Linked DNA regions of Homo sapiens. The protein of the gene in region 3 purifies or fractionates together with the protein of the main gene of each other region. This does not show direct contact. Each region holds a gene or a part of one and is shown on either strand. Other genes may lie near its edges.

Region 1 (3,616 bases), on a different chromosome or scaffold from region 3:
ATCTAGTATAACCTCTCCCTGAACGTAATTCAAACTACTTAACTATTATTACAGACAAAAATCACATGTATGCTGAAAGTAAAATAACCTGTTTCCAGAATTTCTGATTGCAAAATTCTGAGTTCTTCAATTAAACCTGCATTTTTCTCAGTCTTTTTGGTGCCCCTGCTTCACTGGTGCCTTAAGAACATTTGAGAGCCTAAGGGCAGCCCTGAGCATGGTGCCTGAACTAGGGTGCCTCAAAACTAGGGACTGAGGAAGTCTCAAGTTCATTCCTGAATGCTGACTATAAGAGTCTCTGAGAGAGTTTTGAGAATGTAGAACTGATTTAGAATGAATCTCAGGATTTTTCTGTTAAGATCTATAAATTAGGAATTAAGGAACTGGATTTTTTTTGAATTTGAAAAATCCTATGATAGTATAACTTTGCATAAGCCTACTGAATGATAGGAAAGTTTTTAGTTTCTTATCAAAGAAAGAGAATAAAGTGAATCAGGACATCAGTTTCACATTGACATTTTTATTAACGCCAACTGTTTTTTAATTATTTTTTTAAAACAATAGCACAAAAATGTTTCAAGGAAGCAGTCTCACAATCTGATGACCTTCTGAAATACCGTTAAGCCACACCAAATATGAATTTCTGTTAATAACACAAAATATTTTTTTAAGAAAAAAAGAAAAAAAAGGTAGGGAAAGAAGAAGGGAATGAGATTTAGATTTAAAACTCATTGGATTAAATAGGTGAGGCTTATTAGGATATACTGTTGAAGCAAACAGTGGCACACACAGGCTTACAGTCTTTGTTTTTTAAACCAGTTACCACTAATGTATTAAGCCCTGCAGCAGTTACCACTGACTTCTCGCACGCATAAAATGAACCGGGAGAAGCCAGTGTTGATACTGTTGTGAAGAGGTTCAAGAGCTGGCTTTTCAGACAACTAAGACCATTTTTAGCAGAATAACTCCTTCAGAAAGGCCTGGCTGAAGATCTTTTTATTTCTATTGTCTCACCTATATAAATTTCAGGGTTCTTATAAGTCATCTTTAAAAAGAAAAAAATAATGTATATCAGTTTCTCTTATTTAATGTGGCTATGAAAGATGTTTCCTTATTATTTCTTCATCTCTAAGAAGGACACCAGGGAATGGGGGTTGGGGGTGGAACTAAAGGGAGGAAAAAAACCAGAACAGGGTAGGTTTTTGTTTTTTGCTTTTTGTTTTTTTTTGGCCAAGGGGTCGGTCACACAGAAGGGAAGGCAAGGAGGAAAACTAAACTACAATCCTTGGTTCAGATTGAGTTATGCAGGAATATATCTTCCTGATCAGTCCCCGTGCCAAAAAAAAAAAAAGCCACTTGGAATTATGCACTGACTCCAACTATGTGATACCAGCTATCAGCCTTTTGTGTTTAACCATTCCCAGAAATGGACACCACCCTTGGCTTTATAGGCTCCTTGCAGAACCCACTTCACAAAAATGCTCTTCACCAAGAAGCCTCTAGTTTCCTTTTGGTAGGTTATAAAAACAGAACATCTGTCATTAACAGTAGAGTGTTAAATACTTTTAACCACTGACAAGGCTTCAGAAAGTTTCACAGTTTCGTTATGCTCTATTTTATTACTATCATATTTACATTTTTATTTTTTATTTATTTTTTGCTGAATTGCTGATTTTCCTTTTTCAATAGAATTTAATTCTGGAGTGTGAGCAGGAACCAGTTAACTACATTCATTGTCCAACCCCCACTGGTTTGAAAGAAGACTCCAAATTCTTGGCATATGAATCAGCTGTTCGGTAGCTCCACCTTATCCCTGCAGCGAAGCAGCAGAACCGCCAATGGCGGCACCTCAGGATTCACACTGTGGGTGGTGAGGCCTTCCGCTGAAGGAGGTACTGGTGGATGCTCTCAGCATCTCGCTTTAGCCAGGCAGCATTCAGCAGAATATTTTCACAACACTGCTGGATGGTACGCTCAGCTGAAGGAGCTGGGTGACTCTCGAAGAAAGCCTGGTATAAAACAACCCAGAATGCAGGATCATTACTAGCAATAAGAAGTTAATATTACAGGTTATGAAAAAATACCCACTGGTCTATATGAAGGATGCATAATCTTCAGGCATGAGAATTTACCACTGCCACCCTCAGGCTAAAAGAAAACAAGCAACTCCTTGGACCTGCATATAGGAATTCTCCCCTTAATTATATGCTTAACAACCTAATCAAAAGTTAATAAAGAGACAGAACCTACTGCCTTTCTTTTAGGCTAATTGTGTAGTGGTAAATATAGTCTTTGGAATGAAGACTTGGAACCTGAATCCAGGCTTAGTCATGTACTAGCTTGTGACTGTGAGAAAATTAACTGCTCTAAGTCTCAGTTTTCTCAACTATGAGAAAATATCTACTCCAGAAGATTAAAGAGACAATCCATATAAACATTTGACAAAATACCTAGCACAGAGTACTTAAGGATTCAACACATTTTGGCTGCTTCAAATAAAGATTAATTTGTAAGGGATGATAATACAAAGAAGTTTAAATTGCTGCTATGCCCTAATAATTTAACACCCCATGGTCTTTTTTTTTTTTTTTTTTTTGAGACAGGGTCTCACTCTGTTGCCCAGGCTAGAGTGCAATGAAACGATCATGGCTCATCACAGCCTCAACCTTCTGGGCTCAAGTAAACCTCCCACCTTAACTTCCTGGGTAGCTGGGACCACAAGCGTGCACTCCCAGGCCAAATTGTTTTTTCCTTTTTGTAGAGATGGGGTCCTACCATGTTGCCCAGACTGGTCTTGAACTCTTGAACTCAAGCAATCCTCCCACCTCAGCCTCCCAAAATGCTGGAATTACAGGAATCCAACATTTTTAATACAGTAAACCAAACAATTTCTAAGTTTACAATTTATCACAATGCTTAATGATTAAAAGTTGAATAAACTTTTCTAATGCAGTACACCTGGTTTCACAGAAAACAAAGCAACTCTTAAACACCAGCTGGCAAAATGATAGGGCTTTTCCTTTGAATTAGTCACCACAGGTGTGAAAGACAGAATGACTAATCCATCTGATTAAACATAGACCTTTTAGAAATCAATAACCTTATTTACACAGATGACAATTGCTACTGTTCCAAGGCTCCTAATCATGGTTCAGTTCTCAGGGCCTCAAGTCTTTTTCCATTCCATCGCAGAGTAGTACCAACATTTATACACCAGAAACCTGGGGATTATCCTGGCTTGTTTTTCTTCCTCTCCCAGATATGCTCACAACAGAGAAGCCAATCAATAAATATTGTTGAACTAAATGGTTAACAAATTCAAGCCCCTGAATCTCCATTATTCCATCTCCTCCACTACTGCCACTACCCTACTGTAAGCTATTCTATCATTCTTGCTAGGAGAGTTAGCTTCCCAACATCTTCTCTTCCCCATTCCAAACTATTATCCACATTGCAGCCAGACTGAAATTTTTATAACACAAATCAGATCAAGGCACTGCCTTGTTTATAAACCATTCGAAGGCTTTCCATTTTTAGGACTTTTTTTTTTTTTTTTTTTTTTGAGACAGGAGTCTCGCTCTGTCACCCAGGCTGGAGTGCAATGGCACGATCTCAG
Region 2 (4,281 bases), on a different chromosome or scaffold from region 3:
TCAGACTGTGCTAATCTCAAATGTGTGTTAAATAGTTTGCTAACAAAATAAAAGTTTAAACAAGATTTCCCTGGAAATACTTAAGCTGTTGCAGAAATTAAACAAGTTAATTGTGTCACAATTGCTTGATTATATTTTTATTTCTCCATCTTTGTGTTTTTCTAAGAAAATCCAGAAAAATATTTTGTTCTTGTAATTTCTATCTGCTCCCTACAATTTCTTTCTTCTTGATGCAGCAGCTGTGAAATGCCAAGATTTCTCCAGGTGGAATTGCTTTTACAGTTCTAGGATGAAGTGTAAAAATAAGACACAGCGCTGCCATCTCTTCACCTGGCCTGTTCTCTGTTGTTCTCTTCCAATGTGTTTCAGTGTGCAAGGGTCCAGTCCCATGAGATAATTCTAAGACTATCTCTTTTCCTCAAGAACACATGAAAGTAATTTTAAATGTAAATACTTGCAATTTAAATCACTTAAGAATACTTTGTTTCTTGAAGTTTACCTTAAATAGATTTGTGTGTTTAAAGTTTTTAGATTATGGTAAAAAAGGTACAGAAGTCTAGATTCTAGTTCATAATAATTTTCATTCCTCATGTTTCCTGAATGTCTACCCTGTGCTGGGCATGGTACCACAAGCTGCAGAGCCAGTAGAGAACAGGATAGAAAAGTTGCCTGCCCTCGTGAAACCTACTTTCTAGTGGACTTAGGGCAAATCCCTGTAAACAGAAGCAAAAGTCACAGAAGATAAGTGAATAGGTTGCTGAGGAAGGTGGAGGTTCATATGAAGGGAACATATTTCTTGTCCATGAGGCTGTGGGTTGTCTATAGATTAGCTCTATCTTGGCTAAGCCTGGCTTAGTTCCACATGCCTTTTCATTCGGGCACAGGCTGAGGGAGCAGCTCCCATCTGGGCCATTCTGTCTTCATGGCAAAGTACCAGAACACAGAGACTGAACTGAACGTCTCAAGTACCTTAAAAACTCACCTATGGACGCTGCCATGCCTGGCAATAGATTGGGAAAATCCAATCCACTAATAGGCTGCTTCTCCACCTCTGCAGATAGACATAGCAAGGAGGGGGTTCTCTTAATACTCTTTTGAAGAAGAGAAGGTGTATGATTGGGAACAAAGATACAATCTATCCGGTTATTTCTTAAAGCAGTAATTTTCTTAAAGATATTCACAACTATAGCCTGGTTAGCTTAATTAGATGGCTTCATTTATAAAATTCATTTTCTTTTTGGAAACACATGTCATTTAGCTGTTTTTACTAGGTTCTGTGTGTGTGTGTGTGTGTGTGTGTACATATGTGTGTGTTTGTGTATATATATGGAACATAGGTGGTGGTTTCTGCGAGAAACATATAAACTGGGTGAGAACAGCGTAGTTGCCTATGCACTATGCCTGCCTGATATTTGTTGAATCAACAAAAGAATGAGGAACTAGTGAGTCAGTTCCACTCTTTAGGAGGAAATTTTGTTTTATGAACATATACAACAAAATTCTCTTTAACTGTGAACTACTACATTTTAGGAAAAGTTGTGTATTACTAGACTTTAGCTATCACCCACTATTACAATACAGAAGAAAGAGCAATTTATAGCAACTCAGAGAGGTGAGGGGATGGGAGAAGCCAACCCTTATTACTGACAAAGAGAATAGTGATTAAGAAATCAAAGATATTGATCTCTTCCATTATTTATTCAATAAGTATGTATCGATTATATTATATGCCAGAAACTTCCAAGAGATGGGGAGATTGAAAGGAACCAAACCAACAGACCCTTTCCTTCATGAAGCTTATATTCTATTTCAGGAGAGTGGGCCATAAACTAAAAACCGTAAAATATGTATTATAATAAAGGTAAAAATTAAGTAGGGGCCAGGTGTGGTAGCTCACACCTGTAATCCCAGCACCTCAGGAGGCTGAGGCAGGTGGATATCTTGAGATCAGGAGTTCAAGACCAGCGTGACCAACATGGTGAAACCTTGTCTATACTAAAAATACAAAAAATTAGCCGGGCGTGATGGTGCACACCTGTAATCTCAGTTACTCGGGAGGCTGAGGCAGGAGAATTGCTTGAACCCGGGAGGTGGAGGCTGCAGTGAGCTAAGATCACGCCACTTCACTCCGGCCTGGGTGACAGAGCAAGACTCCGTCTCAAAACAAAACAAAACAAAATTAAGTAGGAAAGAGTTAAAGAGCTTCCAAATGTGGGCTGTAACTTTCAGTGGTGGAAAGCCCTCTGTGATAAGATGACATTGGTGTAAAGACTTGAGGGAGGTGTGGAGTGAACTGTTTAAATATCTCCACATAGAGCATTCCAGGCAAAGGGAATGGGAAATGGGAAGGCCTTGGGGCATGGGATATTGGGGACCGCAAGGGGAGAGCAGGTGAGAGCAAAAGTGTAGATAAGCTCAGAGAAGTAGCAAGGCCCATATCATCTAGGGCTTTGGCTTGTATTCCAAATAAGATAGAAAACTTTTGGAAATTCTCTGCAGAATGGTGTGTAATGTGATTTTGACTCTCAACAGGATCACTCTTGCTGTCACTTTGGGAATAGACTCAGGAGCAAGAGCAAAAGCAGAGAGACCTTAATCTAGGGATGAGATGATACAGATTTGTACCACGGTATGGTTTCTCTAAAAAAATACAAACCATGTTCCAAGTCAAAAAATGACATGGTATGATTTAGACGGGCTTCCCCTCAACTTAATCTGAATAATGATTTTCAATGTATTATATACTATTCATAAGAATTTGGAATGTAGTTCATAAGTGAACTACGAGTGATATGTTTAATGGCATATTGCTCTGAACATAACTTTAAATCAAACTTTGCAGTCACACTCTTCCTAAATAGAATATTGAATGCTAGCACAGAGTAATGGAATAAGTATTGACTTGGGGGCACACAGCTCTGTTCTTAAATATTTTTGGTGGCATAAATTGGGTCAAGCTGCTTAACCTTGTTGAAACTTGGTTTACCGTCTAGAAAAATGTCTGCTTTACACAGTTATTATGAGGAAAGTGCCAGTACATTTTGATTCATAGAAGAAACTCAATAAAAATACATTAGTTCCCTTCCCTGCAGATTTGGAAGATGTGGAGCAGTAGAGGAAATATCAGTGACGCAGTTTCAGTGTGGTATAAAATGTTTGCTTTATTATGAATGCGTGTTTGATAGCTGCTCCCACCAGCTCTCTTCTGACATTTTTGAAACATATGACTCAACAGGGGAAATTAATAGGATGATAGAACATTGAAATTTGAATCCTGACATAGGAGCCCTCCAGCTGTGTTCCTATAGGTGGTGGCAAACCCATTGCAGATCTACTGAGGCTCTTTCTGGAACCACATAGCCATTGGCCATATATATGCAAGTCTAACCAATACAAAAGCTTGGATATATTTTTTAGACCCTGCAGCAGTCTGAAAAATGTGAGAACTTTGAAAATCATCTTAATTTCATAGATGGGAGTTGAACTCACCCAGGATTAGATCATGACTAAGTGTTACTGAGATTCTGCCAAACTGTGTAGGGTAAAATGGAAATGAGGTGAAAATATGAGAGCAGCTATGGTATATTGCTCTTTTTGAAAATTTCCATCAGAATTATGTAATAAACTAGAGTTGGTAGGGTAGGTGTCTTAGACCTTTTCTATTACTTATAACAGAATACCTGAAACTGGGTTATTTATACAGAAAAGGAACTTATTTCTTAACAGTTATGGAGGCTAAGTCCCATGTCAAGGGGCTGCATCTGGTGAGGGCCTTCTTGCTGGTGGGGACTCTGCAGTGTCCCAGGAAGGCTCAGAGTATCACATGGCGAGGGGGCTGAGTGTGCTAGCTCAGGTCTCCCCTCCTCTTTTTTAAAGCCACCAGGTCCCCTCCCAACATAACCCACTAATCCATGAATGGATTAATCCATTCATGAGGGCAGAGCCCTTATAATCCAGTAACTCTTTAAAAGCCTCATCTCTCAGTATTGCCACAGTAGGGTCCAAGTTTATCTCAATTGCTTACCCTTTTTTTCTTTTTCTTTGTGAAACTGCCTGATTTCAGAAGATGTTTAGCTCAGTAAATATACCAGAGATTTGTTGTTTTGTAAAACAGTCTTTATTCTTTTCTTCCAAATGTGAGATATTCTAAGTGAAATGAAGACTTTTGTCCTTTATGCTTGCTGAAATTTGAATGGCTTGTTTTATAGCAGTCTTTTTTCCCTTTTTCAGGAACTCTTTCCAGTTAACAGACAGAGTGTGGATCATTTTGCTAAATACTTC
Region 3 (4,281 bases):
AACCTCTCTTCACTGATGGCTTCAGGTCTGTCGATCTTATTCCCAAGAATCAGTATAGGCACATTAGCAATGGTTTCATCTGTCATTAGTGACTGAAAAAAACAAAACAATACAAAACAAGAGTTGATATGAAACCATCCAAAGAGCTTATTTTGATATGATAAAACAATAAAGGACTCATTTTCTACCATATCATGTCATACCAACGTTCTTTGTCAAACTTTCCCCACATTTTAAAGTGACCTCAATGAAACCATAAGCTAAATTCTTCTGTCTTCCTAAGGCTCTTCCTGTAAATGTTTACTCTGCTCATCCTTTAAAGGAGTGACATAGAACGTATAGAGCCAGCACCTTAGAAGTGAACAGATGTGGTTTCACTTCTGGCTCTACTGCTTTTGAGATGTGACTTTGGGCAAGTTAGCCTGACTGAAGCTCTAGAGAGAATTAGGAACAGTAGCATCCACCCTATGAAATTGAGAATTAAATCAAGTAATACGCACAGTCTCTGGAACAAAGTAGGAACTCAGGCATTCTCTGTCCTTGTTTTGTAACCATAGAACCTACCTGGACTTTTCCACACGTACAAGTATTTGTTTGCCTGCTCTGGGCAGAGCCATGGTATGATCAACCTTCAATCAAATCATGGACCTGCTTACTCTGTGGCCCCAGATCTGGTGCTGACCTTGCCTGCTGCTGTTGGGCCCCTTTACAAAATATCTGACCTGGGATACTGGAGGGGAGGTAGCTACATATGCCTCTGCTCACTCCTGGGAGTAGTGTCAAAGATGGCATGTCCTATCATTTCCAGGCTGTGGCTTAAGATATAGCATCTTAGCATGACCAGGGACTCAAGATCAACCCACTCCAGGAATATAACAGACATGAAATATACTAAAAGGGTACATTCTGTACAGGGTGAGCTTCTTAAGTCTTCATAAAAGATGTCTGTGTTAGTACTTCCTCAATAGCTACAATTACTCAGTTACTCCCTCTGCATTCTAAGTAATCACTACTTAAAGCAATCACTGAGCTCAACAAATTGCCAAGAGTTTCATCAGAGACTGCAGAAAAGCTGCACTCTGATACCTGTATCTCTGACCTACTTCTGCAGGCTTACCAGAGTGATTTGACTATATTTAGTTTCAGTTATTTAACTTACATCAAGTTCTTCTTTTGACTCTAACAGCCTTTCGTGGTCTGCACAATCCACCAGAAATACAATGCCATTGATAGCAGGAAGGTAGTTTTTCCACACTCTTCGAGCTAACAAAAACAATCAGGGGTTAGAGTTTACTTGTTGGTCAAACCCAGCAGATGGTTTAAGCAAAGAGTCCAACCAGATATCAAGTGCGGTAATCCCTTAGCTGCTGGTACTTCACAATATATTCAAGTTAATCTTTTACCCAGTGGTGCCAAATTCTTCTGAGAATAACTAAGAGGGAATTTCAGGCTTTCCTTGACTGTGGGCAAGTCAAATACTTTAGTCTCTTCCAATTATCATATGTAAGGAGTAGAATATTTAAAATAAAAATAAAAATAAAAAAAAATACACGTTAAGTTCATTGGAGGACTGCTACTAGATCTAAAATATAAGCAGTAAAAAAACTACATATATGTGATTATATATACATAAAATGTGTGTATTTATATTACATATATATGCAGTGTTCATTTTTTGACATTTCTAGTTATCAGATTTTTTTTGCCAGTGATAAATTTGGAATGAGTGACAGAAGGAAATTAATATCAGGTACAAGCTTGTTAAAATAATAAGGCCGGGTGTGGTGGCTCACACTTGTAATCCCAGCACTTTGGAAGGCCAAGGCAGGTGGATTGCTTGAGCTCAGGAGTTCAAGACCAGCCTGGACAACATAGTGAAACCTCATCTCTACAAAAAAACACAAAAAATTAGCCAAGCCGGACACAGTGGCTCATGCCTGTAATCCCAGCACTTTGGGAGGCTGAGGCAGGTGGATCACCTGAGGTCAGGAGTTGGAGACCAACCTGGCCAACATAGTGAAACCCTGTGTCTCTACTAAAAATACAAAAATTAGCCAGGCTTGGAGAATCACCTGAACCCGGGAGGTGGAGGTGGCAGTGAGCCGAGATCATGCCACTGCACTCCAGCCTGGGTGACAGAGAGAGACTCCGTCTCAAAAAAAAAAAAAAAAAAAAAAAAAAATTAGAAAGTGTGGTGGTGTGTGCCTGCCCAGCTACTTGGGAGGCTGAGGTGGGAGGATGGAGCCCAGGAGGCAGAGGCTGCAGTAAGCCAAGATCATGCCACTGCACTCCAGCCTGGGAGACAGAACCAGACTCTGTTTCAAAAAAAATAATTAAAAAAAAACCAAAACAAAATTGTTTTACTCAGAAAAGAAGCTCAAATGTTAATAATTAACTGAAGTCTATGAAATCATAAGAGTAATTTTTTCCATAACATAACTTTCTTCACTGACTTGAGTTTTATGACATACCTTTTTTTTTTTTTTTTAAAGAGACAGGGTCTTGCTCTGTCATCCAGGCTAGTTCACTGCAACCTCAGACTCTTGAGCTCAAGTCATAGTCCCATCTCAGCCTCCTGAGTAGGTAGGACTATCAGTGTCTATCACTATGCCCCATTAATTGTTAAATTCTGTGTAGAGACAGGGTCTTGCTATGTTGCAAGGCTGGTCTTGAACTCCTGGCTTCAAGTGATCCTCCCAACCTCAGCCTCTCAAAGCACTGGGATTATAGGCCTGAGACCCCACACCCAGCCATTATGACATATCTTGAAACAACATAGAAATGAAGTCTCAGACAAATTCCATTAGATTCCAATTCTAATCATCGTATTCCAGAAATTATTTTGTGTATATGCCAGACAATTACATGTCTCAAATGTGCTTTCACTAGCCAGAACCATTTACAATCTTTTCAACTATATGTCGCATCAGGTTTTTAGAATGCCCACCAATTCGGTAATATTGGTTAGTTATGACTTACTATGAGGTAGATGTTGCCAAGTACTTTTGGGGATATAAAAAATGAACAGGCCAGGTGTGGTGGCTCACACCTGTAATCCCAGCACTTTGGGAAATTGAGGTAGGAGGATTGCTTGAGGCCAGGACTTCAAAATCAGCCTGGGCAAGATTGTGAGACCCCATCTCTACAAAAAAAATTTTTTTTAATTAAAACAAAACAAAAAACAGGATTTTAGTCCCCGCAAGTTTAATATAAGAGATAAGGCAGTCTTTCCAAACTTGTTGTAGACATGTACACAAATATACTAAGTGCTATGAAGTATAGCTGAGAGCACTCCAACTGAGAATGGCTTCCCAAGGGAGGTAGCAGGGCATACGCTGGGGCCTAAAGGGGTTACTCATGTGCGGATGGGGATGGCATGAACAAAAGCACAGAGGAAAACACCAAGAAGGTCTGATTTGGTTGAAGCAAAAAGAACGGGAAGGGGAATAGAGGGAAATAAAAGAAAAGTAGGCCAGATGTGGTGGCTCACACCTATAATCCCAACTTTTGGGAGACTGAGATGAGAGGATTGCTTGAGCCCAGGAGTTGGAGACAAGCCTGGGCAACATAGTGAGTGAGACCCTGTCTCTATAAGATAATTTTTAAAAGCCCAGAAAAGTAAACTGGGACCAGATCATAGAGATCCTGAATGCCAGGTTAATGAGTTTGGCCTTTATTTTGTAAGTAATGAGTTAGCCACTGAAGGTTTTTTTGTTTTGTTTTGTTTTGTTTTTGTTTTACAGAGCAGTAACATGTTCAAAACATGATTATGACAGTGAGAGGTAGATTGAAGTAGAGAGAATGGAAGTTAATTTTACTCATACACTTTACCACCAAAAGCAATTCTCATTTGAATTGGCCAGAAGTATCATGAAAATCACCCTTTGCTTTTAAAGTATTTATCGGGGAGTAATAATCCCTAAATTTTAAATCTACTCTGGCCTTGCGTGACTAGAATGAGATTTCATGCACTAGAACTAATGGCCACATTTTTGTTAAGTTAAAATAAAACAAAGTGACTGTAAGAGTAAGAGAATCTTACCTTGAACGTGGCGAAATCCCATCTCTACTAAGAATACAAAAATCAGCTGGGCGCGGTGGCACATGCCTGTAATCCCAGCTATTGGGGAGGCTGAGGCATGAGGATTGCTTGAACCCAGGAGGCAGAGGTTGCAGTGAGCTGAGATTGCACCACTGCACTCCAGCCTGGGAGACAGAGTGAGCCTGTCTAAAAAAAAAAAAAAAAAAAAAAAAAAAAAAAAAAAAAAAAGAATCTTACCT
Region 4 (4,281 bases), on a different chromosome or scaffold from region 3:
ACAGGTGACAGGTCACCCATTATTGTCAGAGGGGAGTCATGTTAACCCCTGGGGGTTGGGGAGCCCCAACTCTGTAGTCTCCCACTTCTACCCCAGAATCCTGTGCATGAGGCATGTGTGGATAAGCAGCCAACAGTCGAAAGGTGGCATCCTTCCATGGCAACATGCATATTTTAGTGTAAAAATCCCTGGTAGGTAGGACAGACATACAAAGGCTGTGACAGAACAACAGCTTTGATCCAATATAGCCTGCGTTCAAATTGTGGTTCCCACACTGACTGGCAGGACTTAAAATCAGAGTAGCATGGCATCACAGGGTTGGTGTCAGGATTCAAGGCGTGTTCAATGCTAAATGCATTCATCATCCCTACCAGCTGTTGCTTGCTGAGCCCAGGAACCCTCAGAGGTCAGAGCTGCAAGGTCCTTGGGGGTCTCCTTGACCACCCTTCTCCTTCCTTTGTCCAGATAGGGAAACAGGGCCCAGCAGGGATGGCAGTGGGGCTCACTGCTGAAATGTGGCTCACCTCCTTTCAGGTAGGCATGGGGTACGTTGGCCTCCAGAAACATGGCCTCCCCAGGCTTCAGGGTAAGCAGGTTCAGGAAGTAGATGGCAAAGCAGCCGATATCACCTGGGTACTGCTGGTGCAGCTGTAGCAAAAGCTCCCCAAAGATGTCCTCCATGTTGTTTCCGGCAGCCGCTGAGGGTCACAGAGCACCCCAAGGTCACTTAGGGGGATACTCAGTGCTGTTCATAGCCCCACATTGGCCAGGGAGTCCTAGGAAAAGGTCCCTGCCACAGGAATCCAGAAGCCAAAGTGGCCCTGTCCTTCTGGCCACGCCTCCAGCCCTTTGGGGGTCGAGCCTTGCTTGATACTCCAGTCCATACAAATACCATCTTTCATCATATCTTGACTATTCATATGCCCAGGACTATACTAGCCACTAAAAGAGCTAGAGTATGGTCCTTTCAGGATGGGATTTCTCAGCCTTGGCGCTACTGACATTTGGGCTAGGTAATTCTTTATTGTGGGGGCTGTCCTGTGTACTGATGGATGTGTAGCAGCTTCCCTGGCCTCCACCCACAAGATGCCACTAGCAACCCCTATCTGGGTTTTGACAATCAAAAAATGGCTCCAGACAACAGCCAAATGTCCCCTGTATGAGAACCACTGCCCTTGGAGCTCAAAATCTAGGGAGATAACGCAAAAGAGTTTCATGAAGGGTAACCAACATGCCCGAGCTTTCCCTTTTTTTTTTTTGAGACGGGGTCTCGCTGTCACCCAGGCTGGAGTGCAGTGGCACGATCATACCTCACTGCAGCCTCAACTGTCCAGGACCAAGCAATCCTCCTACCTCAGCCTCCTGAGTAGCGAGAACCACACGTGCATGCCACCATGCCCGGCTAAGTTTTTTATTATTTGCAGAGAGAGGGGGTCGCTATATTGCCCAGGCTGGTCTCGAACTCCTGAACTCAAGGGATCCTCCCACCTAGGCCTCCCAAAGTGCTGGGAATACAGGTGTGAGCCACCGCACCCGGCGACTTTCTAGTTTTTAGCACTGAAAGTTCTGTGTCTCAGCTGGGCGCGGTGGCTCACACCTGTCATCTCAGGACTTTGGGAGGCCAAGGCAGGCGGATCACGAGGTCAGGAGTTCGAGACCAGTTTGACCAACATGGTGAAACCCCATCTCTACTAAAAATACAAAAAAAAAAAAAAAAAAAGCCAGGTGTGGTGGCACGTGCCTGTAATCCCAGCTACTCGGGAGGCTGAGACAGGAGAATCGCTTGAACCCGGGAGGCGGAGGTTGCAGTGATCGAGATTGCACCACTGCACTCCAGCCTGGGTGACACAGCGAGACTCCGTCTCAAAAAAAAAAAAGAAAGTTCTATGTCTCAGAGAATCTCTCTCGGTCTGCTCCAGAGAGCATGAGGCAGAATGCGCTGAGGGCCAAAATGTGTCCTGGAAACGACAAGGGAAAATGAGCTCAGCCTGGGTAGAGTGGCAAGGGTGGACTTCTTTAATTTTTAAATTTTTTTTCTTTTTCTTTTTCTTTTTTTTTTTTCCGAATCGGAGTCTTGCTCTGTCTCCCAGGCTGAAGTGCAGTGGTGCAATCTAGACTCACTGCAACCTCCACCTCCTGGGTTCAAGTGATTCTTGCGCCTCAGCCTCCTGAGTAGCTGGGATTACAGGCACACACCACCATGCCCAGCATTTTTTTTTTTTTTTTGAGACAGAGTCTCACTCTATTGCCCCGGCTGAAGTGCAGTGGCATGATCTAGGCTCACCACAACCTCTGCCTCGCCTGGCTAATTTTTGTATCTTTAGTAGAGATGGGGTTCCACCATGTTGGCCAGGCTGGTCTTGAATTCCTGACCTCAAGTGATACGGCCGCCTCAACCTCCCAAAGTGTTAGGATTACAGGTGTGAGCCACCGTGCCCAGCCAGGCTTCTTTAAAGTGAGGCAAGGGGCCTGGCGTGGTGGCTCACACCTGTAATCCTAGCACTTTGGGAGGCTGAGGCAGGTGAATTGCCTGAGCTCAGGAGTTCGAGACCCGCCTAGGCAACATGGTGAAACTCCGTCTCTACTAAAATATAAAAACTTAACCAGATGTGGTGGCACATGCCTGTAATCCCAGCTACTCAGGAGGCTGAAGCAGGAGAATTGCTTGAACCCGGGAGGCAGAGGCTGCAGTGAGCCAAGATCGCACCACTGCACTCCAGCCTGGGGCAACAGAAAGAGACCACACACACACACACACACACACACACACACACACACACACACACACACACACACACACACACACACACTGAACAGAAAAAAATATGCTTGGGTCAAATAAATAATGCCCTAAGGCTCAAAGGTAATGGGAAACCTGTAGAGGTAAAATAAAAAGAGAGCTCTGGGCCACCTAGAGAAGGGGTTGTGGCTGCCAGGCTAAGAAGCTGAGACCTCATCGCCTGCACCACATAAGCTCATTGCTGGGAGTCTGTTCTGTTTTGGGTTTCTTACTGCTTGTGTTGACTCCCCACCTTTAGGGTGACAGTGACCACACCCATCACAGTCATTTCCTGAACTCTTCTTAGCACAAGGTTGGGCACACAGAAGGTAAAGGAAAGATCAAATGACTGAGTGCTGGAGGCATCAGTCCTTTCCAGGAGAGGGAGGATGCTCGTGTCCCCTTCCTGCCTCTTTAGCCCCGAGATACAAGTCCATCCATGGAGGGCAGCTGCAGGGCTAGGGAAAATCTCAGAATGCCTAGGTGGAAGGCATCCTAAGAGTCCTCTATGCCAGTCTGCCTCCAACCATCTGGAGAAGATGACCAGTTGGGAAGCAGCACTCAACTAAGAAGGGCCCTGCTCCACAAAGACTAGGCAAGCAATGCTAAGTTGCCAACAGGTCATCTAAGTGGGGCCCCTTTTAGTGTTCCACTTGGGCAAGGGGGTTGAGAACTGTCCCCAGAGTCTGGTGTCTGCTGGGAAGCCCAGGCCAGAGCATTGCACCCAACCAGGAATATAACTGTGTCCACCTTGCTGGGAGATCCGCTTCACCAACAGGTTGAGCTGTTCCACCACCACCTTCTTCTCACTCTTCATCAGGTGGGAGAAACAGCTCTGCAGAGAGGAGGCCACAGCCTGGGAGTCATGGCTCATGGTCTGCTTCAGGTGTGTTGCTGCCTCATCTCCAATCAGGAACTGAAACTCAGGCACCTCTACAGGAAGGCAAGGCCCAGGGCCCATATCAGGAATGGTAAGATGGAACCCACACAAGTGGGGAGTTGGAGGACACCTTTCCATCCCAGCCCTAACCAAAGAGCCGGCAATGCTAAGTAAACTTTGCAGTGGAAACCAATCACTCACCACCAGCCCTTGACTACCACACCTGAGCCTGGTCTCACTGGCCTGGCTCACTGGCTCCAAAAACTGCTTCATGAGGCCCTTCAGTTCCTGTGACATGTGACCCGTTCTCAGCCACTGTTCCTATCATCTTGGTTCCCCAGGTATCCCTGGCCCAGTACGCATGCCTTCAGCATTCTGCCCAACTTACTCTTTAGAAAGGTTACAATCTCCTCAACTGGCCGGAAGCCACACAAGCCCTGGAAGGGGGTGAGGGCAATGGCCATCTCTGGCTTGTGGTTGGCATCGGGGTAGTGCTGCGGAGCCTGGAGGTGCAGCTTCTCTGCCAGCTCCTGTGGGGTGGCCAGGGGAAGAGGAGGATGGTGAGGGTACAGCCATTACCTAGCAGGTACACCAGTGCCACCTAGCCCCTGCTGTCCACCCT
Region 5 (4,281 bases), on a different chromosome or scaffold from region 3:
ATACCAAACTGGCAGGGGAAAGGCCGTTCCCTGAGCTGCTGGTTGGCTCTAAGAAGACAGCTGCTGCATGTTTCAATCAGAGACTAGCTTATACATAAAATTACAGATTGACTTCACCATACTGCACTTTTATGAATAAGCTCATTTCTGACTGGCTACAGGACTTTTAAGAACTATATTATTCAACAGGTAGTCGTCACCTGTTCAGCCAAAGCTGAGTTTTTAAAAATCTCAGACTCACAAGACAGCGTGCACCAGTCCCTCCCATACTCACCCACTACTTTACACCGGTTTTGTTTTGATGGGGGGAGGGTGCTGACGTTCTATACAGCACAGCATTGACAGCACATCCCAAGTTTGCGGGAAAGAAAACAAATTTGTTTTTCTCTTCCTACCTTTCTGGGTTACAACTGAAGTTTTTATCATGTGCATATATAAAAAATTATACTTTTGTAATTTAAAAACAGAAAGTAAAGATGATAAAAATGCTTAAAATCACCCTGCAGGGCAGAGGCCTGGCGTGTGGACTGATGCTTTGTGCTATACCACCAGCTGCTCTGCCTGGGTTGGCTAAGAAAGAGAACGGCGAAGTGCATCAGGTCCACCATCAAGGGACTGGACCTCCCCACAATCCTCCAAGAAAAAAAAGGGCCATCAGGACTACCTTTCACCATGTAAGAACCCAAACCTCTATCCTATGTTTTCCAGAAGGAACAGTACTTCTCTTGGTGCCATACACAAAACCACAGAGGAGTTTCCCTGGGCTAGAGTCTGAGAAAGACTGCTGAGCGAGCTCAAGGACCCAGGCCCGTACACATCCAAGGAGCTGCAGGCTAACAAAGGTGACCACACAAGGTGCATGGGGCTCAAGTCCTGCCCCCACAGGCTCTAACAGAGGCTTACTTGCATGCCTGGGCACCCTGCAGGAGAGTTGTATTTGTTAAAGGAACTAAATAAGTAGTCCGGCCAGGCGGGCTACTCGTAAGAAACAGAGAACAGCAGCAAGGCTCCTAGGAAAAATTAAGTGGTGATACTTTAAATACTGATACCAGAATTGAAGTCATCCCGGGAATCCCATCCACCTCTAGATTCTCGAGAGCTACCCATTCCTGAGGATACACAAAAAAGATAAAGTTGAGGTCGTGTCATTACCTTGCTGCGCAAACATGGAAAAATTCATTTGGAAGACATACAACTCAAGTGATGGAAGGTTCAATGAAATCATTTTAAGAGCTTTTGCTTCCAACAGAAAACAAAAAACGCCAGGCTTGCAGAAGCATCAGCCATTCTTTCTAGGATTTTACGCAAACTTTTAAGAGCTCACGAGAACCTATCACACCTATGAGATAATCGAGTTCTACTAGGAACGTTCACGAGTTGGAATTGGTAGGCATACTGCAAATCTTTATGATGTTCAGCTTTAGAAGAACCAATCACCTCTGTCATCTGGTCCACCTTTTCTGAATCCAAAGCCACCTTTATCTTGTTTTCTGCCTTCTGCAATGTCCACACGAAGTGACCGATCGCCCAACAGCTAATGATAAAGGGAAAATAGTGTAAGTATTGGCAAAGAAAACAATCTCAACTGCTATGACAGAGAAAACCCGAGGATACTTACTGCACCATCGTATGTCAAGGCTTCCTTAAGGGAATCCACTTCATCGAATTCTACATAGCAGAATCCTGGAAAAGAAAAGAAGACCCCGATTTCCTCAAGTAATTCTGGGTTAAAGATGTGGGAAGATCCTATTCATACTACTTCTCCACGTCACAACTACCATTCTGTTGTCTAGATGATGGCAGACTAGGAGAGCCTTTCAATAGATAGAACCCTGACTGGCATTCCTCCCTCTCAATTCTATTTTATCAGTCAGAAAATGCTAACTGAACATGCACTGAAATAGCAGCTGCGTTTCTAGAAAGCTTTCTTCTTGAATGTTTTAACCATAATATTCAAACCTTTCTCAGGCCATCTGCAGAGCTCTTCTGACTTCTGAATGACTATTTAATCTAAGTGAGGATTAGATTTCGTAGATTTCAAACTTGGTACCTAAAATGCTCTGAAGAAAGAGGCTTAAAGTGCCGATTTAACTTACTACTCAGGTAACTGACATAAAATTTGCTTCACAAAGCTGAAAATATATCCTTGGCAATCAGGGCATTCTTCTCTGAATGTTAATTAAAAGACAGGCAGCCTGGGTCCAAGTACCTGTTACTGACAACCTGTGTCCCTGATGCCAGGGGTCTGACATTGCCCCTTCCTTGCTGTCTGGAGTCTAAATCTAGTTCATTACTCCCCAGATGCTGGCACTACACCCTGCATCCCCTCTCCCCCAGCGTCCTTGCCCTGTGTATAATAACTTAATAATCACACTTCATCTTTGAAGCCCACTAGACCGCAAGTGCTCTAAAGGCCTGAGTCCAAACTTTCCCTGTTTACCAACTGTGTGTTAAGAACATACTGCCTTGGCTGGAGGGATGTCCCCCCAGGTTTCCTCCCTAAGTGGATTCAATGTTGAGAATAATGGAGAAAACTACCCCCAACTTCACAGAAGCAACAGACACCCAATCTCATCTTCTAGAGCTGCTCAAATGAAGATGGTCCTTCATGAGCCAAACTCCAAAGCCTGCAGCGACTGACCCAGCCCAAAGGCTAGGCTCACCCACACACTCCAACCCAAAGTTTAGTTCCTAATGCTTCCTGGAGCTTACTTCACAAGTGTAACTGATATATTTGTTTTCACTGTTTGATTACACACTACATGTGGCTTCAGATTCTGAAGTCAAAAAGAGTAAGAGTGCCACCGACACACAAAACCACCCAGGTCAGCAAGGCCTTCTCGACTGCTGGCACAGCTCCCCGCCCCAAGTTACCCCATACTTGTCACAGATGTGCTTTTGGGTGGATTATGCGGGCCAAACATCCTGGGTCCTAGCATCGTGCACTTACACAGCAGGCACACTTCCTTCAGGAAGCCCTGCAGGCAGGAGAATGCTGCTCGGATCCCTTCTTCTTCCTGCTCTTTGCTCCCGCACCCTGCAGACACACGACCTATAGACACCATATCTGAAATCTCAGCCAGCCCTCCCAAGCACACTCTCCAAATTTACAAATGCATACTGACAGCACTGGCTGCTTCTCTTCTGGGTTTTATGATTACTGGATGACAGTACCATATGATTACTGGATTAACTACCAAGGAAAATCTACGAGTCATTCCAGGAGGAATGTGCCTAAGAGTCCTCGGCTCTATTCCTCTCTCTCCTGGGGAACTCCTTTACTGGCAGACAGGACTGCTGTAGAGGTCAGGCTCACAAACCTGGGCATATGCCATGTATTTCTATGAACTACACTGTGTACAAAACATTTTCCCCTAAGTGAACTGAAGACCTATGAGTTGAAGAGTTATGTTTCTTTCGGCCACTTAGACCAGGCAAATGTTTAAAACACTTTCTTGATTACAGCCTCTGGTTCACAAATCTATTTTTATTTAGAACCCCTTCCCATCCTCCCCTACACTTTACAGTAATATACAATAAGAATCCCCCAAACTCACCTTTAAATTTATCTGTGTCTTTGTCTCTGACTAGCCGTACACTCCTTATGCTGAGATCCTTAAAGATAGCATCTATGTCGCCCTGAACCGTATTGAAAGGTAGATTTCCTACGTATGCTGTGTAGGGGGGCTCTGTGGGCAACTCCTTCTGGCTACGGGAACCATGGCCACCAGCACTGCCGCGGGACCTAGGAGGGGAGACAAACAGGATTCAAGTGTGCCCAGAGTGGAATAAGCAAAACAAGTAAAGCGGTCTTCCGCTGAGCTACGCCGCCAGCGCCCCAGGTGAGGCACTCTGCTCGATGTACCACAAGACTGTTACAGAGAATGGCTGGAGAAACAAAAAAAAAGGAAAAGAAAAATTTTTTGAGACAGACTGTCACTCTGTCACCCAGGCTGGAGTGCAGTGGCACAATCTTGGCTCACTGGAACCTCTGCTTCCCGGGTTCAAGAGATTCTCCTGTCTCAGCCTCCTAAGGATGCTGAGATTACAGGCATGTGCCACCACACCTGGCTAATTTGTGCATTTTTAGTAGAAACAGGGTTTCACCATGTTGGCCAGGCTGGTCTCCAACTTCTGACCTCAGGTGGTCTGCCTGCCTCACCCTCCCAAAGTGCTGGGATTACAGGTGTGAGCCACCATGCCCAGCCCAAACGTAACACACCTTCCTAAGACAACTGCTTCTCTCCTATTCACTCAGAATCTGTATCTGCAGTATTTACA
Region 6 (4,281 bases), on a different chromosome or scaffold from region 3:
GGAAATCAGCCCACAAGATAAGAACACTGCAACCAAACTCATAACTAATACTGCTAATTTAACTATTGTCCAAAAGAGAAAGGGAAGAAGAAAAAAATCCCCACTCTACTGGGAGGTTCTAGGCTTTCCTATAAGTTATCCAAATAGTCTTTTTTTAATCTCAGGGTTTCTTAAGAGAATTCCCATTCAGTGACCATTTCTTTCGTTAAAGGCACTTTCAATGACATGATTGGAAAGGAGTGAATTTTAATTGTAGTGAAACCAAGATTAATTCCTTGGCACACCTGGGAAGAAGAGGAACCGGATGGGGGCATTTACAGTGATTTCAAAAGGCAAATAATTAAGTCTTGAGCATTTCAACAGATGCACACCCAGAAAAAAAATGTATGCCCCGAAAACACTTGTATTTTTCCTTTAGTTTTCCAGCTGTTTCTATCTATAGCTCTGCAAAGAGATCACATTCACTACTTGATTGATTTTCAAGACACTGGCCCTAACTCTTCCCACCACAGCTGTGCTTGACAAAATTAGCCAACAGTCAGTCCTACAGGGGGAAAAAGAAGAAAATCAATTTGGGCCAAGCTTTCCTAGAGCAAAGGGATCTTTCCTTGCCCAGGTAATGGCAGGTTCAGTTGCTGGACCTATAGCAACTGAATGTAATATGTGGCCCCTACTACCTATGAAATGTTGGACTTTTTGACAGGCAAGACTAAGTGTTCTCTCTCTAAATATAAATTGTGGAGCATATATTTTTTTTCTTTCCTCTCTCCTGAACATTTCTTATTGATCTCAGGCTTACAAAATTAGTTAAGTGAGAATTATTAAAATCATAAAAGGGGTTGAGAAAGAGTAAAGAGCTAATGTTTGTCTACATGTGTGAGTTGAGGATCTTGATCCTTCATATCATACTCCCAACCAGAGAAAAATACAAAAATAAACACGCCATGTTAATACATAATACAAAGTGTAAATCTACAAACACAAGTGTACTAATTAGAGTTGTTCCTCAGAAGCACGGCTTCCCTCCAGTCCCTCAGAGAGGAGGAGGAATGGGGACGGGATGGTTTTCATTACGCCTTTTCATGTCTTAAAAAGTTTGTAGTAACAGTCTCAGTAGCGCAAACAATTTCATGTGAAACCAGAAGCTGTAAAAATAAATTACTTTTGAGGAAATGAGGGTTCCTCCGTAGCTCAGAACTCATCATGCCGTACTAAGGCCTCCCCAAAATCTGTGGCCTGGCTGCCAACAAATAAGTCATACTTGTCAACGATCTCCTCCTTGGTAAGCTTGCCATCCTGAAAGTAGAGATAGCAATGAATTGAAGAAGAACATATTTCCCATTAAAAATTCAGAAACACTGTTATAGAAGAATTGGGGTTAATCAGAAGTTAAGATTCTCATTTCTACTAAATTAAGTGTGAACTACTCAGCCCTCATTCCCCCTACATACATACGAAGAGGGAAGAAAACAGCAATTACACATTCCTTGTTTTTTTTTTTTTTTTTTTTTGAGACGGAGTTTCGCTCTTGTTGCCCAGGCTGGAGTGCAATGGCGCGATCTCAGCTCACCGCAACCTCCGCCTCCCGTGTTAAAGTGATTTAAGTGATTTTTCTGCCTCAGCCTCCCGAGTAGCTGGGATTACAGGCATGCGCCACCACGCCCAGGTAATTTTGTATTTTTAGTAGAGATGGGGTTTCTCCATGTTTGTCAGGCTGGTCTTGAACACCCAATCTCAGGTGATCCGCCTGCCTTGGCCTCCCAAAGTGCTGGGATTACAGGCGTGAGCCATCGTGCCAGGCCAATTAAACATTTCTTTTATCAAGAAAGTTAAAAGTGGAAGGGTGGAAAGAATATAACACAACAACTCAATGCTAGAGATAAAGGTTTGTTTCATGAGGAGAAAACTCTCCTTTTAGAGGAAAATATGGAACATCTCCTAGATAGGGATGACTACATGCATTTCCTTTTCTCATACATCTCAGGACACAACACCTGGCTACTAAAGTGACTTTGAGCAAGAACTTAAAGCAGATCAACACTTAAAAAGGCTCTAAAATAAAAAACTGAATTTGAAATTGAAGATTAGCTTAGACAAAAATATACTCAGAACACTGAAAATCTCCATCTTTAGACCGATTTTCAGCTTACTCCAAGCAGGGCAGGAGTAATCTCTGAAGCAGGTGACTGGGCTTAGGGACAACAATACTTTTAACAAAATACCTCAGATAATTAATTGATCAAGGACAATTTGAACAGGCTCCAGAGAAAAGCTGATTTATAGCCCATACAAAGGACCCAATTTAAAAAAGCCTATTTGATTTAAGAAGGAAACAACCAGCTTTGAGTAGACAGAATGGGCCTGTAATAGGTAAAGGAACAAATGAAGTAACAAAGAAAAAAAAAAATTCCTGGGGATCTAAAAATACCTGATGATGCATGCTGGGCACAGGCTACACACAAAGGCTCTTTTCTGAAGCCAAATTTCCTACAATGCTATCAGCACTGGGCAAAAGGATTTCTAAAATGAGATCAGATAGCTAGTGCTGCCCTGAAAGGTTTTAATCGCCAGATTCAGATACTTGGCTGACTTAGACTAATTAAGACCTTAAATGCTCTATGCACCTTAACAGAAACTGTTCAGGTGATCCCCTAGAAGCATACTTCAATCAAGGATAGAGCGTGTGGGCCTCGCCAGACTTACCTTGTTTTGGTCTGATTCATAGACCAGGTGCCTGGCTTCTGCCTCTGCATGATCATAGTCTGAGGGAAGGATCCAGTCTTTGGTCTCTTCCTTGTCCATCTTCCCATCACGGTTCTTATCCCGAAACTCAACAAACTGCTCTCGCTCTGTCTTTACCCATTCTGGCTCATCAGTATTCCCATCATGGCTGTACATGTCACCTGGGTACACAGACATACATACAAAAGAAGGGTTTGTCTTTTCCCCAAAACTGCCTCATGCTAATCTGGCCTAACCCTTTTTCCTCATCCATTTGTTTGGAACCCAACAGCAGCTACAAGGGTATTTTAGGCCAGACAGACCTTAGAAAGCAAGGTATTTTCCTGAGGCTTAATCACTTATCTTGCAACAAGAATATTTCCAGCTGCTGATTTTAAGTCACATGAGAGCAAAGAGTTCTTATACCTTAATAAATGCAGAAATAAGAGGAGAGAGCTACCATCAAGAAAGACTTAGACTCGTTCCCTACATTTCATTTCACCCTAAGGTAGCTAATTAAACGGGACCACTTGTTTTAGAAAGGTGTAGCCAATTACTACAAAGAGTCCATTATACCAGTGGCCTTCAGTTGGGACAAGCACGCCCCTGGGGAAACAGGAACACTGTCAAGGAGTACACTGAGAAAGGTCAGTCAAGAGAGAATCAAATTCCAGATACTCAGTTCCACATATAGATTTTTCCAAAAATTGATCTTCATAAGAATGTACCTCTGGCCATCAAGGCTTTTTTCCCATCTCCCCCCTTTCACAACTGCCCTTGTCCCACTTTATAAAAGAAAGGCATATTTTCAACCATTTTGAAACTAGAGTGTAAAAAGCTCCAAGATAATGAAAAAGAAACAATTAGAAATACTAGTGTCTGGATGGGCGTGGTGGCTCACACCTGTAATTCCAGCACTTTGGGAGGCCTAGGCAGGCAGATCACCTGAGGTCGGAGTTTGAGACCAGATCACCTGAGGTCAGGAATTTGAGACCAGCCTGGCCAAAATGGCAAAACCCCATCTCTACTAAAAATACAAAAATTAGCTGAGCATGGTGGTGCGTGCCTGTAATCCCAGCTACTCGAGAGGCTGAGGCAAAAGAATCACTTGAACCCAGGAGGCAGAGGTTGCAGTGAGCCGAGATCATATCACTGCACTCTAGCCTGGGCGACAGAGCAAGACTCCGTCTCAAAAAAAAAAAAAAAAAAAAAGAAAAAGAAATACTAGTGTCAGTCTTGAGAATGCAAATGCCTGAAAAAAAATGAATAAATTCGTTTGCATGTCAAAAGGTTTTAAATTCTTTGCTTTAAAAAAAAAAACCTTGAAAAATGGCCTAATTGAGTTTTAGCTAAGGGATCATTAAACATAATTTTTGGGCTGGGTGCAGTGGCTCATGCCTGTAATCCCAGCACTTTGGGAGGCTGAGGCGGGTGGATCACTTGAGGTCAGGAGTTTGAGACCAGCATGGCCAACATGGTGAAACCCCGTCTCTACTAAAAATAAAAAATAAAATTAGCCGGGCGTGCTGGCCCACACCTGTAATCTCCAGCTACTGGGGA
Region 7 (3,158 bases), on a different chromosome or scaffold from region 3:
TGGCCAGATATCTCTACCAAAGTGGGATCTAGAAGCCCACAGTGAAGCAAGACTACACATCTCAAATACCCTGTACAGCCCATCCAACCAAAAATCAGCACACGTGGGCCTCTAGGCCCTCGGGGATGAAGATGCAAATTGAGATTCATGTGTAAAGTTGTGCCTGGTTGTGACTAAGGAGAATTTTTTCTTTTATATATATTTGTTTTCCTTTTTTTTTTTTTTAAGAGACAAGGTCTTACTCTCTCACCCAGGCTAGAATGTAGTGGCACAATCATACCTCACTATAACCTCAAACTGCTGGGCTCAAGCGATCTCCCGCCTCAGCCTCCTGAGTAGCTGGGACTACAGATGAGCATCACCACATCAAGCTAATTTTTCATTTTTCTTTTGTACAGACAAGGTCTTGCTTTGTTGCTCAGGCTGGTTTTGAACTCCTGGCCTCCCAAGGTGCTGATAGTACAGGCATGAACCACTGTGCTTGGCCTTTTAAAATTTTGTAGAGATGCAGTCTTACTATGTTGCCCAGGCTGTCTCAAACTCCTGGCCTCAAGTGGTCCTCCTGCCTTGGCCTCCCAAAATGTTGCAATTACAGGCATGAGCCACTGTGCTTGGCAAGCTAAGGAGGATTTTCACTAGCAGTTTCATTTGACAATACCAATCTAGAGGTGAGCTTCTCAATCTTTAATGTGTATCCAAATCACCTGGGGAATAGATGCCGATTCTGAAACAGGTCTGGAGTGAGACCTGAGGTTCTGCATGTATAACAAGCTCCCAGGGGGTCCAGCTGTCACTATTCTGCAGATCACATTTTGAGAAACAAGGGTTGAGGGTGTTTTTTCACTAGAAGTCAATCTAGACCATCTCTAAAGCTGTTAACATGTCCAGCCCTTCCCTAGACTCCTTTTTACCAAGTCCCTGATTTGTGGCAGTTCTGCTTTATCCTTCCTTGAGGGCGCCTCTGAAAAAACATACATACCCTCCAGATGCTTGACAATGCCCCGGAGGCTGTTGCCATGGGCTGCAATCAGTACACGTTTCCCCTCCTTGATCTGGGGAACTATTTCTTCATTCCAGAAGGGCAGAGCTCTGGCAATAGTATCCTTCAGACTCTCACAGGAGGGTAGCTGATCTTCTGTGAGGTCTGCATACCTGCGATCCTAAGCAATAAAGAATCCAAGTTCACCACTTATTAAGAGTTACATCTGTTAAAAGACTTCATGATGTATCGATTTTGGCCCATTCACATTCACAGGGTTTTATAAAATCTGACTATGGAAACACAAAAAAGGAGATAGTAAACTATCAACCATATCTTCTAGTAAGTGAAGGTCATTCACTGGAGAAGGAAGGATTACAATTAACTATTTTATCATGAATTGTAAGTTCAGTGAGATTAGGCAGACACTACTAAAAGCCCCTGATCCTGGGCGGAGTGACCAAACCTCTGTTTGTCCATACCTTACTGATGTTGCTGTAGAAAGGATGGTCGGGCTCCATCGGAGGTGGTGGGACATCATAGGAGCGCCTCCAGATCTTCACCTGGGCCTCACCATGCTTTGCAGCAGTTTCTGCTTTATTGAGACCGGTTAGACCCCCATAGTGCCGCTCATTGAGGCGCCAAGTCCTCACCACTGGCAGCCACATCTGATCAATGGCATCTAGCACTGTCCAGAGGGTCCGGATCGCTCTCTTCTGCACTGAGGTGAAGCAGATGTCAAACTCATAGCCAGCATCTGGAAATCAGAAGTTCAAAGTGATAAGCTAACCAGGTCTACTCTGAGCCAAAATGTTCTTCAGTATCAATCTCCTGTACAAGTAGTCCAAATGACAATATTTGGCCAAAAAAGAAAATATTTGGCCAACTGTTTTGTTTATCCTTGCACTCTATCCAAGGTCACAGCTATTATGTGGGTTAAAACCTAGATTAAAACCCATGCTGTGGGACTCCAGAATCCAACTTTTCACCACCATCTCTAGCTATCCCCATTTTCCTAATTCCCAAGGATCCTGATGTTTGCATTTCAGTTAGAACTGTCACTTTTTCTTTTCTTTTTTTTTTTTTTTTTTTGAGACGGAGTCTCACTGTCACCCAGGCTGGAGTGCAGTGGCGTGGTCTCGGCTCACTGCAACCTCCGCCTCCCGGGTTCAAGCAATTCTTCTCCTCAGCCTCCCAAGTAAGCTGAGGATACAGGCGCACGCCACCATATCCAGCTAATTTTTGTATTTTTAGTAGAGACAAGGTTTCACCATGTTGCCCAGACTGGGAATTGTCACTTATAAAAGATATTTTACTAGAACTCTGAAGTAAGAAAATTAGGATTTAAATCCCAATCAGGACACAGGAAGAGCTCTTCCTGTACTGATAAAACTTCAGTTTGTTGTATGAAATTTTATTTTGTTTTTGTATTTGTTTGCAATTGTATTTGTCCATTGTATGAAATTGTATTCACTGTGGAGTATGGAAATCACATCACAAACTCTAATCCATGGTTTCTCTCTACTGTAGTCACAAAGTTCCAGCCTAATACCAAGTACCCTCAGAGTATACCTACTTAAATGTTAAACCAAGTTTAGGAGAAGCCACTCACTAAAGAAAGACCCAGTGCTGTGCACTATCTGATTCATCAATGAATCTGTCTTCCATACACAGTAGTTATTGTGGCAAGAGTTATGTTGGCCCAATGAATAGGTTCCAAGAAATCAGTCTTGGCCCGGCACGGTGGCTCACGTCTGTAATCCCAGCACTTTGGGAGGCCGAGGTGGGCAGATCACAAGGTCAGGAGATTGAGACCATCGTGGCTAACATGGTGAAACCCCGTCTCTACTAAAAATACAAAAAAATTAGCCGGGCATGGTGGCGGGCGCCTGTAGTCCCAGCTACTCAGGAGGCTGAGGCAGGAGAATGGCGTGAATCCGGGAGGCGGAGCTTGCAGTGAGCTGAGATCGCGCCACTGCACTCCAGTCTGGGCGATAGAGCGAGACTCTGTCGCACGCAAAAAAAAAAAAAAAAAAAAAAAAAGGAATCAGTCTTATTGATTTTGTTTCATTAAAGATTATTCACCCTCCCACCATAATGGGGAGATAGCCCTTTCCTTGATGACCAAGAAAACATTCCTGTTTTTCTCCATTAGGCTAGAAGGCCCTCTTAGAAATTC

The links.
Region 1: the proteins of SAR1B (region 3) and NPEPPS purify together in Homo sapiens (affinity purification with mass spectrometry; one large-scale study listed by BioGRID and IntAct). This does not show direct contact.
Region 2: the proteins of SAR1B (region 3) and BZW2 purify together in Homo sapiens (affinity purification with mass spectrometry; one large-scale study listed by BioGRID and IntAct). This does not show direct contact.
Region 4: the proteins of SAR1B (region 3) and MPI purify together in Homo sapiens (affinity purification with mass spectrometry; one large-scale study listed by BioGRID and IntAct). This does not show direct contact.
Region 5: the proteins of SAR1B (region 3) and EIF4H purify together in Homo sapiens (affinity purification with mass spectrometry; one large-scale study listed by BioGRID and IntAct). This does not show direct contact.
Region 6: the proteins of SAR1B (region 3) and CALU purify together in Homo sapiens (affinity purification with mass spectrometry; one large-scale study listed by BioGRID and IntAct). This does not show direct contact.
Region 7: the proteins of SAR1B (region 3) and PGAM1 purify together in Homo sapiens (affinity purification with mass spectrometry; one large-scale study listed by BioGRID and IntAct). This does not show direct contact.

Annotation. Positions count from the first base shown.
Region 1 is NC_000017.11:47,620,161-47,623,776, reverse strand, and holds the end of NPEPPS (puromycin-sensitive aminopeptidase), read right to left. Parts: intron 2,251-3,616; exon of another isoform or gene 2,010-2,250; coding exon 1,857-2,009; 3' UTR 501-1,856; downstream 1-500. UniProt on the Homo sapiens protein: Aminopeptidase with broad substrate specificity for several peptides. Involved in proteolytic events essential for cell growth and viability. May act as regulator of neuropeptide activity.
Region 2 is NC_000007.14:16,690,604-16,694,884, forward strand, and holds part of BZW2 (eIF5-mimic protein 1), read left to right. Parts: intron 1-4,230; coding exon 4,231-4,281. UniProt on the Homo sapiens protein: Translation initiation regulator which represses non-AUG initiated translation and repeat-associated non-AUG (RAN) initiated translation by acting as a competitive inhibitor of eukaryotic translation initiation factor 5 (EIF5) function.
Region 3 is NC_000005.10:134,608,412-134,612,692, forward strand, and holds part of SAR1B (small COPII coat GTPase SAR1B), read right to left. Parts: coding exon 4,280-4,281; intron 1,264-4,279; coding exon 1,160-1,263; intron 93-1,159; coding exon 1-92. UniProt on the Homo sapiens protein: Small GTPase that cycles between an active GTP-bound and an inactive GDP-bound state and mainly functions in vesicle-mediated endoplasmic reticulum (ER) to Golgi transport.
Region 4 is NC_000015.10:74,892,569-74,896,849, reverse strand, and holds part of MPI (mannose-6-phosphate isomerase), read right to left. Parts: intron 4,190-4,281; coding exon 4,048-4,189; intron 3,713-4,047; coding exon 3,530-3,712; intron 699-3,529; coding exon 525-698; intron 1-524. UniProt on the Homo sapiens protein: Isomerase that catalyzes the interconversion of fructose-6-P and mannose-6-P and has a critical role in the supply of D-mannose derivatives required for many eukaryotic glycosylation reactions.
Region 5 is NC_000007.14:74,187,075-74,191,355, reverse strand, and holds part of EIF4H (eukaryotic translation initiation factor 4H), read right to left. Parts: intron 3,746-4,281; coding exon 3,558-3,745; intron 1,684-3,557; coding exon 1,619-1,683; intron 1,535-1,618; coding exon 1,438-1,534; intron 1,110-1,437; coding exon 1,050-1,109; intron 159-1,049; exon of another isoform or gene 62-158; intron 1-61. UniProt on the Homo sapiens protein: Stimulates the RNA helicase activity of EIF4A in the translation initiation complex. Binds weakly mRNA.
Region 6 is NC_000007.14:128,766,078-128,770,358, reverse strand, and holds part of CALU (calumenin isoform a precursor), read right to left. Parts: intron 2,904-4,281; coding exon 2,704-2,903; intron 1,297-2,703; coding exon 1,192-1,296; 3' UTR 1-1,191. UniProt on the Homo sapiens protein: Involved in regulation of vitamin K-dependent carboxylation of multiple N-terminal glutamate residues. Seems to inhibit gamma-carboxylase GGCX. Binds 7 calcium ions with a low affinity.
Region 7 is NC_000010.11:97,428,957-97,432,114, reverse strand, and holds part of PGAM1 (phosphoglycerate mutase 1), read right to left. Parts: intron 1,737-3,158; coding exon 1,462-1,736; intron 1,161-1,461; coding exon 980-1,160; intron 1-979. UniProt on the Homo sapiens protein: Catalyzes the interconversion of 2-phosphoglycerate and 3-phosphoglyceratea crucial step in glycolysis, by using 2,3-bisphosphoglycerate. Also catalyzes the interconversion of (2R)-2,3-bisphosphoglycerate and (2R)-3-phospho-glyceroyl phosphate.